Homo sapiens: one gene and its partners. The protein of the gene in region 1 purifies or fractionates together with the protein of each later gene. This does not show direct contact. Each region holds a gene or a part of one and is shown on either strand. Other genes may lie near its edges.

Region 1 (3,656 bases):
CAAAAAAAAAAGGGGTTTCTTCAATATAGTAGGGGTCCAGTAAATGTTTATTGAATTGTTGAATGGATTGAAGTCTAATTTGAATCATTTTTCTTTTTCCTTTAAACACTTCTGAGTATTTGATAGAGCTCCTAGCGTTATTAGAGTTCTCACTGGCCCAAAAGTGACTTGATCTAAAGAAAAGATGAACTAGATTTGAAGTCAAGACTGGGGCTGTACCCTCTGCCATTTACCCGCTATGTGGTTTTGAGAAAATTACTTAATATGTATGAACCTCAATTTCTTAAAGTCATGGTAATAATACCCACATTGCCTACTTCATAATGTTGCCTAAGACTTATGATATAATTTTATGTGAAAGCACTCTGAAAATCAAAAAGGATCTATGTAAGGTATTGAATTATCAGACCTTTCTTCTTCAGAATCAAGTATTCTATTTGGATTTAGAATTTAATTATTTAACATTTTAATATTTCTTCTTAAGTAATTTAGTTTCGTCTTACAGCACAGGAAGATTTCATGTGGATGTCTGGTTGATAGGAGAGTTTTATGGAGGCATAATTTAGGCAGATTTATGCAAATTTTAATGCACACTTTATTCTTCTATTTTCACACCCACAGCACTACTTAATAAGCTCCAGTGTGGCACTGGGAAAGTTTAAGGCTGCATGCCTTCTTTATGTTACTTAGAAATTCTCTTGCCATCCACTGGGAGTGAGAGGATGGGAGTTAGTAATATGAGTGTGAAAGAAATCCTGTTTGTTGGCATTGCTCTAGTCAGGAAATGGGGAAGCCTTCAGTCTTAATTATTGAAGTTTAAGGCACATAGAAATTAATAATGGAATATCTTAACTGAGACCATATTTTAAACTCAAAATAGAGACTTCGCTGTGTATTGAATGCCAGATGCATGGGTAAAATTTATATTAGATTGACAGATAATATTGATCCTGGATCTTGTCTACGCAGGTATTTCATTAATCACGGAGCCAGTGTAGGTATTGTCAATAGTGAAGGTGAAGTTCCCTCTGACCTTGCAGAAGAGCCAGCCATGAAGGATCTTCTTCTGGAGCAAGTAAAGAAGCAAGGTAACCTCATGGATTGGAGGGGGCCAGGAAAGATTCTCAAACACTGCCATTTACAGAAAATAATCCATTTGCTGTGCAGAGCATTTCACTATCACATGACAGGAGAGGATTTGATCTGTCTGCACTGCATTAATCATTAATCCAGCATCATGTATCCTCATAATAACTCAGACAAGAATAGGCCAGATGTCAAAAGGATGACCAATCATTCCTTGTTTTTGCCATTCAGAGGTTGCATACCCATCATACAATTAAGAGTGACCTGATGAGGACTGTGTGTATGCACAGTACTGTGTGTATGCATGGTATTGGGATACAGTGTAAATTTGAGAATTGGCTAAACTGAGTTTGTGACTTTGCATCTTTTCCCTTGTTGAGAGCTAAAAGTGGTGCTGATAAAGATATTTATTGTAACTAATCATGAGAATTAGTATGATAATTTGTTAAGGTGAGGAAGCTAACTTAGAATAATATATTCTAAAAATGCTTATTCTTATTTTATAGTTTTAGGAGAATCGATTTCACAGAATAGGATGGAATTTTTCAACCTGGAAGTCCCTGGGTTCTTTTTCCACCACAAAACTCTGCGGACAAGATTTGTAGTGATTTTTTTTTTTAGTCCTTCTGCTAAACTACCTTACTCACAATCTTGCAGTTCATCCCAGAGGATTTAGCTCCAGTGGTCTTTCCCAATATGAACTTTTAGAACAGTCAGGGCCAATTCTTGCTATGCGCATTGTTTACATATTATCCAAAACTGCTTTTGTGCCACAACAGCAGAGTTGAGTAGTAGTGATAGATTGGATGAACCACAAACCTGAAAATACATATTGGCCCTTTGGAGAAAGTATGCTGATCCTACCTTAATATAGTGATGTTCTAGGTCAGTAACTACTTGCTTTTGCTGCCTTTCATGTATAGTTTTTCTGTCCTATTTTGTTTGTTTGTTTGTTTTTTGTTTTTGAGACAGGGTCTCACTCTGTTGCCCAGGCTGGAGTGCAGTGGTGCCGTCTCAGCTCATTGCAACCTCTGCCTTTCAGGTTCAAGTGATTGTCCTGCCGCAGCCTCCTGAGTAGCTGGGACTACAGGTGTGCACCACCATGCCTGGCTAATTTTTGTATTTTTTGGTAGAGACAGGGTTTCACCATGTTGGCCAGGCTGTTCTTAAACTCCTGACCCCAAGTGATCCACCAGCCTCGGCCTCCCAAAGTGCCGGGATTAAAGGTGTGAGCTATAGCGCCTGGCTTTGTGCGCTATTGAATTGAAGAATTTTATGCTTAGCTTAACCTCCAGCCTCAATCAGTTTTATCTCCTAAGATTTGCTTTAAAATGTACAAACAACTTTAAAAAAATCAGTTTTAAAAAATAGTTTAGATTGGAGCAACCACTTTTTCTGTTTTGATTGCTGACTCTTCAATGAGGGAACATACTCTGTTGAAAGGGGTATTCATATATATGTTTAACTTTCCAGCACTGCTAACACTTCTTTGTGTTTGGAGTACTGATCTGATTTAAATTGGTTACCTCTTCACCCCATCCATCTCCCAAAATCACACAGATAATACTTAGGTAGTTGACAGGTTCTCTCTTTTTTTTTTTTTTTGAGACAGAGTCTCACTGTGTCTCCCAGGCTGGAGTGCAGTGGCGCAATCCCAGCTCATTGCAACCTCCGCCTCCCAGGTTCAAGCAATTCTCATGACTCAGCCTCCCAAGTAGCTGGGATTACAGGCGCCCACCACTATGCCCAGCTCATTTTTGTATTTTTGGTAGAGACAGGGTTTCACCATGTTGATCAGGCTTGTCTCGAACTCTGATCTCAGGTGATCCACCCACCTAGGCTTTCCAAAGTGCTGGGATTACAGGCATGAGACACCGCACCCAGCAGTTTCTCTTTTAAGAGCTGAAAGGGAGTAGACCAAGCACAAAGACTGCTAATGAGTGTAAAACTTTTTGAATGGGTATGTTTGTATTTGGGACATTTTATTATTTTGTATAATGGGGTATGCCTCACCCTAACCCCTTTTCACTGGCACAGATATTGGAGAGTTATTGGCTAAAGGGAGGAACTCTTGGAGTTCTTTCATAATGTTTTTAAGGAAAACAAAATCTGCATTCCCTTGAAAGCAGACAGGTTTTTAAACTGCAGATCACCTACTAATCTGTCCTAGATTATATATCTTCAAGTCAGTGTATTTACCTGTATATGGAAATGAACTTTAGAGATAGTTCAATTTTTAAAGTATATCAATACCTGAAACCAAGATTTTGGATACTCATCCTATGGTATAGTGAGTGGATAGGGACCCAGAAGAGGAATGACAGAGAGGGACCCAGGATATCGGAGTTCTAGCGGCAAGTTCTGTCACTAATGTGTTTTGTGGCTTTGAGCAAGATTCCTAACCTTTCTATTTTTATTTCCTCATCTGTTAAATGAAGATTGTAATATCTATTATATTTACCTTGAAGGATTGTTGGGAAACTAAAGTCATATAACATGTAAAAAGACTTGGAAGTTTATAGCTTTGTACAAATATTATAATGTAAAAATAATGTCCCCTTTGTCTTTAT
Region 2 (3,656 bases), on another chromosome or scaffold:
TAAAGTAAAACAATGTTATTAACTTTAAAAGCTCTGAAAAGTGAAAATGACCATGAGAAGTTCTACATATAATAGAAAAGTACTCACCTATGAATCAGGAGTTCACAAAATTTGTAGTGACCTTTGTCTGCTGCTATTGTTAAAGCAGTATCTCTTGAGGAAGGCACAGGGGGAGCATTAACATCTGCTCCTTTATCAAGAAGAACTCTTCCAACCTCTGCATACCCTCCAGAAGCTGCTTCCATCAAGGGGGTAAGACCCGTCTGTTTAAACCAATAAATTATGCAACTAAGTTACATTTCTTTTTTTAACTATTCCGTAGACCAAAACTAAGCTACATAATTTCTTTAAAAACCTGAGGCAATTAACTTTTAAGACAATTCTAGTTCTGATTAGCTCTCATAAAAGAGCTAAGCAATATTTTGCCTTGAATTTTACTAAACAGCAGTAGAAATTGTTAGATTCAGACGTGCTAGAATGAACTTAAAACATGTTATCTCATGCTAAAAACAATTCTGTAACTTCTATACTTTTGTGAATTTACTCAGATAATTTCTTTGCATAATGAATAGAGATATTAAAAATAAGTAGATTAAAATCACTTTATAAATTTTTTGCATATGTGCCTTTGGTACGTTAGTCTCCAACATTTTTTCAAAGGACATTTCCTACTGGTACTATCCAAAATAACACAGATTTCTCTAGGACCTTTAATGGATGAGTGGCACACAATGAATACTTGTAATAGAAAAAGACAAATTGAATGACAGGAAAGACTCATTTCTCTTTGTGTGGTAAAAAGCCAAGGAAAAACTACACTTCCTCATTACTTAGATTAAAAGAATGTAAATGTTGCACTAAACTTTAAGAAGTAAAAGGAATTTCAGGGAAGAAGTACGAGATTTCCAGTCAAATCTTTCCAATTTCAAATGAGCACTAGATTCTCTGTTGACTAATTATTAAAAATTCTACCCAACCTACGTCTTTCCAGAGTTCTAAGAACCTTGCAGTTCTAAGCAAAGAAATTCAAGCCAATGACATACTAACTCCTATTTTCTTTCCTCTGTGTGTGTTTCCTGCATCTATGGAGATTATCTTATGACTTTTCTCCTTTATTCTTTCTTTTTTGTGGGGGCGGGGGGTGGGATGGAGTTTCTCTCTTGTTGCACGGGCTGGAGTGCAATGGCGTGATCTCTGCTCAGTGCAACCTCCACCTCCCAAGTTCCGGTGATTCTTCTGCCTCAGCCTCCTGAGTAGCTGGGATTAAAGGCGCCTGCCACCACGTCCAGCTAATTTTTTGTACTTTTAGTAGAGACGGGGGTTTCACCATATTGGTCAGGCTGGTCTCAAACTCCTGACCTCATGTGATTCACCTGCCTAGGCTTCCCAAAGTCCTGGGATTACAGGAGTGAGCCACCGCGCCCAGCCTCCACTAACTCCTATTTTCTTAATACCAAATAGTCATGAAACTGTCAAAATCTGCCATGGTCAAATTAGATGTTAGCTGCCCTAATTTTATAACTTGTGAATTAAATTTTTGCTTGGGATTTTTACAATGATAAGCACATACCTCATTAAAGGTGTTCTTTAAAAGTCTACAGTGTAAGAGTTAATACAAAATAATCTTACTACATTCAAAAGTTGTAAGCTGCAGTATTAATAGAAAGCTACTCAAGGCTGAGGTTGGGAAAAGTACTAATTCTGTTTTCTTCATTGTCCTTAATAAAAGTCATGATGGTGACAGTATGTCACTCACTATTATACAGCATAATCCCTCAACTCTGCATTGGTATCAGTTTTAATTTATGATAATTTAAAATATTATATTCAATTTGCGTTAAAATGCCATGTTCTTTCTACAGAAATGTATCTGAAATAGTTGACAAGTAAAAAATGCTTACCTTTGCCCTATGTTCAACATTGGCTTTTCGGTCCAGAAGCAAACTCACTACTTCTGCTCGGCCCTGGAAACAGGCCAGGGTGAGAGCCGTGTTCCGATTGGTCTCTATTTGGGCATTAATGTCTGAACCCATATCGAGCAGCAATTTTACTGCAGGAACATGTCCATTCATTGCAGCCAACATCAGGGGAGAAATACCTAGTTTACTCCCAGTCCTAAAGGGGGAAATGTGCTTAGAAAATTAAAATAATATGTTGCCTATTATTTTAGAAAAGCATTAAAGATGAAAAGGTTTCACTAAAAAGAGAGGTTTCTAACATCAATGAATAGATTTTACTTGTTTCGACCAATAATAAAGAATAAGAAAATGTCACAATTTAAAACATAATTTCCGGCCAGACATGGTGGCTCATGCCTGTAATCCCAGCACTTTGGGAGGCCAAGGAGGGCAGATCACCTGAGGTCGGGAGTTTGAGACCAGCCTGACCAACATGGAGAAACCCCATCTCTACTACAAATACAAAATTAGCTGGGTGTGGTGGCGCATGCCTGTAATCCCAGCTACCTGGGAGGCTGAGGCATAAGAATCGCTTGAACCCCGGAGGCAGAGTTCGCGGTAAGCCAAGATCGCGCCATTGCATTCCAGCCTGGGCAACAAGAGCGAAACTCCATCTCAAAAAATAAATAACTTAAAAAATAAAATGTAATTCCTATTTAGGGATTATAAATTTCCAACTATATAAAATAAAATACCGTTTCTGAGATCAGATGAGATTGGGCACGTTTAGGGTGGTAGGCCATAGAACAAAACACTTTTTGAAATGAGACCTCTTTATAAGCAGCCACATTACTGAAATAAGCTGAGATTACTTATAAACAAACACATTATAGGTATAATCGTTGGCTTTGCAACTTTAGTACTATCTTAATTTAAAATGTATCTGTCTAAACGTTAAGAGGTAGACATTTAAGTCCAAAGTAGTAACTTACTAAACATGAACAATAAAATGAACAGGCAATACCTTGAATTAATTTCTGCCCCAGCATTAAGCAGAATCTTAATGATATTAACATATCCTCCAGACGCAGCTAGACTCAGTGGTGTATAATCAGATACGTTCCTATGTTCTTTATTTGCACCTCGAGCCAGCAGCAAGTCTACCACCTACAAAGTAAAATATGGATAGAGAAGAGAGTTTACACCAAGGGCTCAACTTATAATGAAGGAAACACAAAGAAACAGGACTTATAACTTCCTTATCTAAATATCTGATATTTTAATTACATTTCATTAGACCCTAAATATTGAAATATCAACACTAGAGAAATGGATTCAATTTCAGGAATTCAGAGTTTTGAAATCCCAATTATACTGCAATAACAAGATGTTACCCTTTCTATTTGCCATTTATTGGGCAATAAATTTGCACTTCATATGTGTTAGAATTGTGATTCATTCAATCCGAATAAATGTAAGGATTAAGATAATTTTTATTTGGCTTTAAGGGCAAGAAACAGATTTTTTAAAAGGGGATTTATGGCCAGGCATGGTGGCTCATGCCTATAATCCCAGCACTTTGGGAGGCCAAGGCAGGAGGATCCCTTGAGGCCAGGAGTTCAAGGCCAGCTTGGGCAACATAATGAGACCTCATCTCCACCCTCCTGTTCCCTCCACAAACCCCCGCCAAAAAAAAAGGGCATTTACATTCCCATAAAAGTTAACAGAAGTACCCATTCCTCAGAAAGTATATGGAAC
Region 3 (3,656 bases), on another chromosome or scaffold:
GGTTGAGATAGATTCAAGCTACACGGTGTTATGCTAGGAGATATTCATAGCCACAGAATAAACCTGACCCACTTTTTTGGAGTTTTCATTTTATTTAGTTGAAAGTAGTTTTTTATTTTTAAATTTTAATACGAATATTAAAATGAAGCAGAATAAAAAAGTTGTATAAATATTATGTTAAAACCTAAAATTTCTGAGAATATTTTTCTCTAAACTGCTTCAGTTCTATCATTTTCTTGCTTATCCTTGGGCATATAAACGTCTCCTGTAGTGCTGGGAGTACCTCTGTAGAAGAGCTTAGAAATACTGACTTGTGTGGCTGATGGCCTAATGAAAGATTGAGTAACTTAGTTATAGATTTCTGTAGCGTTGCAGAGGCATACGTATTATGATGCTCTCCATGGAATATATAGTGAATATTTATTGATTGGCTAAGCCAAAAGAAATAAGATCTCTCTTAATGTTTAAGAGCATAATTTCACCTTGGTTTAAACGCTTACGTTTTGTATTTCCACTATACGTAGAAAGAATATGGATCATCTCTGTGATATAAAACATATACATATGTTCTGATACTCTGAGATAACAATGTTTTAAATGGTCAGCAGATACTGTTCAATTCCAAGAGCTACTGTACATATGGAAGTGTATTTTATTAACTTGGTTTTGTTTACTTTATAGCACTGTGCTGTGGCCTCTCTGCATCCCAAACGTAAACAAGTGACAGAATTGTTACTTAGAAAAGGAGCAAATGTTAATGAAAAAAATAAAGAGTAAGTATAATTGCAGAAGGAGTTGTTCAGTTCCTAAAGAGGAAATGCAATAAAAGAGAGACAATTACCTTTTCTTTCTTTCCTCTTTTCTGTAGTTTCATGACTCCCCTGCATGTTGCAGCCGAAAGAGCCCATAATGATGTCATGGAAGTTCTGCATAAGCATGGCGCCAAGGTGAGGCACACACCTGAGCAGAGTGCCAGACTCAGCACTGAGCAGCCAGCTGCTCTTAACACTGCTTCTCTCTCTCCGATTTTTCTGAAGAAACTAATTTTATAAAGGACTATTAGTTCGTACTTAAATTCATGGATTCTCCTATAAAGCTGATTTAGATCTTGTTTCTAATAAAAATAATTACCCGTGTTTCTTGATCCTTTAATGTCACCCTTCTGTAAAGCAACAAAATATAGCTATAGTCATTTGAAATAGATTTCATCTTTACATTACTTTCAGTTAATACTATACGGATATATTTTGATAGTGTCCACTTGAATAACAGTTTATCAGAAAATAAATTATGTTAAATGATAGCATCAGAATAGCTCTACTTATTCTAAAAAACATTTGTGGCCAGGCACAGTGGCTCACGCCTGTAATCCCAGCACTTTGGGAGGCCGAGGCAGGTGGATCACGAGGTCAGGAGATGGAGACCATCCTGGCTAAGACGGTGAAACCCCGTCTCTACTAAAAATACAAAAAATTAGCCGGGCGTGGTGGCGGGTGCCTGTAGTCCCAGCTACCCAGGAGGCTGAGGCAGGAGAATGGCATGAACCTGGGAGGCGAAGCTTGCAGTGAGCTGAGATTGCGCCACTACACTCCAGCCTGGGAGACAGAGTGAGAATCTGTCTCAAAAAAAAAAATTGTATGCCTTCAGATTTGTAATAATTTTCTCAACCTCTACACTAAAGAAATATGACATATTTAATAATTTTTACTGGCATTTTCTGAATGGTGTAGTCTGAAACTTTGTCAAGCACTTAAGAGAGGAAAGAAGCAAACTGGTTGTTTTTTAGAGGTGACTTGAAATTATAGATTTTTTCATTCTCAAGAATGTATATTTCAAAGCAGTTGTCTCCAAAGTAGGGTATAGACTCCCTATGGAGCATACAAGATGCCCTGTTGGAAAAATCCTAGCATTTCAATTTATAATACTTTTATTTAAGAATAAGGAAATTCAGATTTACCAATATTGAATACAAAGATGATGCCAGCACTCTCACTAGGTCCACGTGTCAGCCATTGTGACTCGTGATGTCAAGGTTTCCTGAGGTAAGAGTGGGACTTGTTAGTATCGAGGGATTGACAGTGGCAAACTCACTTGTTTGTTCCCTTTCAGCATATTTTGGCATAGTGTACTTTACTTGTGTCCAAATGAGTTGAATTTATGGATATTATCCTAAATGGTAGAACTTTTATAAATATCATACTTGATCAGAGTAGTGACCCTGACAAGGGACACAGGGAGTGACCCTGACATGCTTTTATAGTGTAAAAAGGTGGTCTGGTTATTTTGTGAAGTAGTATTTTAAGGTGTTGTCATAGTTGTGTTCTTTTTAATGAAAATAAAAGGGTTCAAAATTTGTTAATAGTTCTCTGAGGACAAATGACCATGACTTGCATGTAGATACCCTTTAAAAAGGAAACATAATCAGATCCTTAAAGGTAAAAGTTACACACTTTAGGTAAATGATAAAATAACTGCTTTTTTAAAAGAAACTTTAAAAAATGAAGAGAACGTTTTGAACATAGATTTTTAGAAAATGTTCACTTTTCTGTGATTTTGCTGAAAAATGATATAAATGAATCACCCAGCCGTCATATCTACATAATTTAAACACATAAAAACAGAATTTTCTCACCTGTTCAAAAGCCTTCCTTAATTTGGTTTTAGGGTAGATTTTGAATCTATTCAAAACATTGTAATGCAGCACTTCCTAATAACTTCGCAAGAACATCAGTAAAGATGGAATTTTACTACAGAATTTCAATGAAAGCCTTAGCATAATTAGTAAATTACATTAAAATTAGGCATTCTGATTGAGTAGGCATAGTTAACAATGCATTTATTTCATTGGCTCCATGAATCTGTATGAAATCTTTGCAACTAATATAGCCATTCAAACTAATTATCAAAAATGAACTTAGAGCCACGTGTAGTGGCCCGTAATCACTCCTGTAATCCCAGAGCTTTAGGAGGCAAAGGCAGAAGGATTGCTTGAGGCCAGGAGTTCGACACCAGCCTGGGCAACACAGCAAGACACTATCTCTACAAAAAATTTAAAAATTAGCCAGTCGTGGTGGTGTGCACCTATAGTCCTAGCGACTCGGGAGGCTGAGGCAGGAAGATCACTTGATCCCAGGAGTTTGAGGCTGCAGTGAGGTATGATCATACCACTGTACTGCAGCCTGGGCAACAGAGCAAGACTCTGTCTCTAAAGAAAAATGAAATGAACCTAAAATTAAACCCTCAAATTCCTAATATCACAATTTTTATAAGTTTTTTTAAATGTTTAAACTACAGTCAATGGATATTTTCTAGCATAAGTAATTAAAATATGTTTTGGACAGGTACCATAGCCTATGCCTTAATCCCAGCACTTTGGGAGACTGAGGTGGGAGGATCGCTTGAGCCCAGGATTTTGAGATCAGCTGGGCAACACAGGCCAACCCCGTCTCTACAAATAATAAAAAAAAATAGCCAGATGTGGTGGTGCATTCCTGTAGTCCCAGCTACTCGGGAGGCTGAGGTGGGAAAATCACTTGAGCCCAAGAGGTCGAGGCTGTAGTGAGCTGTAATCATGCCACTACACTGTAGCCTGGGTGACAGAGCAGTACTCTATCTCAGAAAATAATAATCATGAAATCTTTTTAAATTTTTAATTA

Evidence for each region.
Region 2: the proteins of PPP1R12B (region 1) and ANKHD1 purify together in Homo sapiens (affinity purification with mass spectrometry, with the first as the bait; one large-scale study listed by BioGRID). This does not show direct contact.
Region 3: the proteins of PPP1R12B (region 1) and TNKS purify together in Homo sapiens (affinity purification with mass spectrometry; one large-scale study listed by BioGRID and IntAct). This does not show direct contact.

What each region holds. Positions count from the first base shown.
Region 1 is NC_000001.11:202,421,651-202,425,306, forward strand, and holds part of PPP1R12B (protein phosphatase 1 regulatory subunit 12B), read left to right. Parts: intron 1-969; coding exon 970-1,088; intron 1,089-3,656. UniProt on the Homo sapiens protein: Regulates myosin phosphatase activity. Augments Ca(2+) sensitivity of the contractile apparatus.
Region 2 is NC_000005.10:140,506,244-140,509,899, reverse strand, and holds part of ANKHD1 (ankyrin repeat and KH domain-containing protein 1), read right to left. Parts: intron 3,066-3,656; coding exon 2,923-3,065; intron 2,116-2,922; coding exon 1,902-2,115; intron 264-1,901; coding exon 88-263; intron 1-87. Other genes in the region: ANKHD1-EIF4EBP3 protein, read right to left, coding at 88-263, 1,902-2,115, 2,923-3,065. UniProt on the Homo sapiens protein: May play a role as a scaffolding protein that may be associated with the abnormal phenotype of leukemia cells. Isoform 2 may possess an antiapoptotic effect and protect cells during normal cell survival through its regulation of caspases.
Region 3 is NC_000008.11:9,709,274-9,712,929, forward strand, and holds part of TNKS (poly [ADP-ribose] polymerase tankyrase-1), read left to right. Parts: intron 1-681; coding exon 682-773; intron 774-868; coding exon 869-947; intron 948-3,656.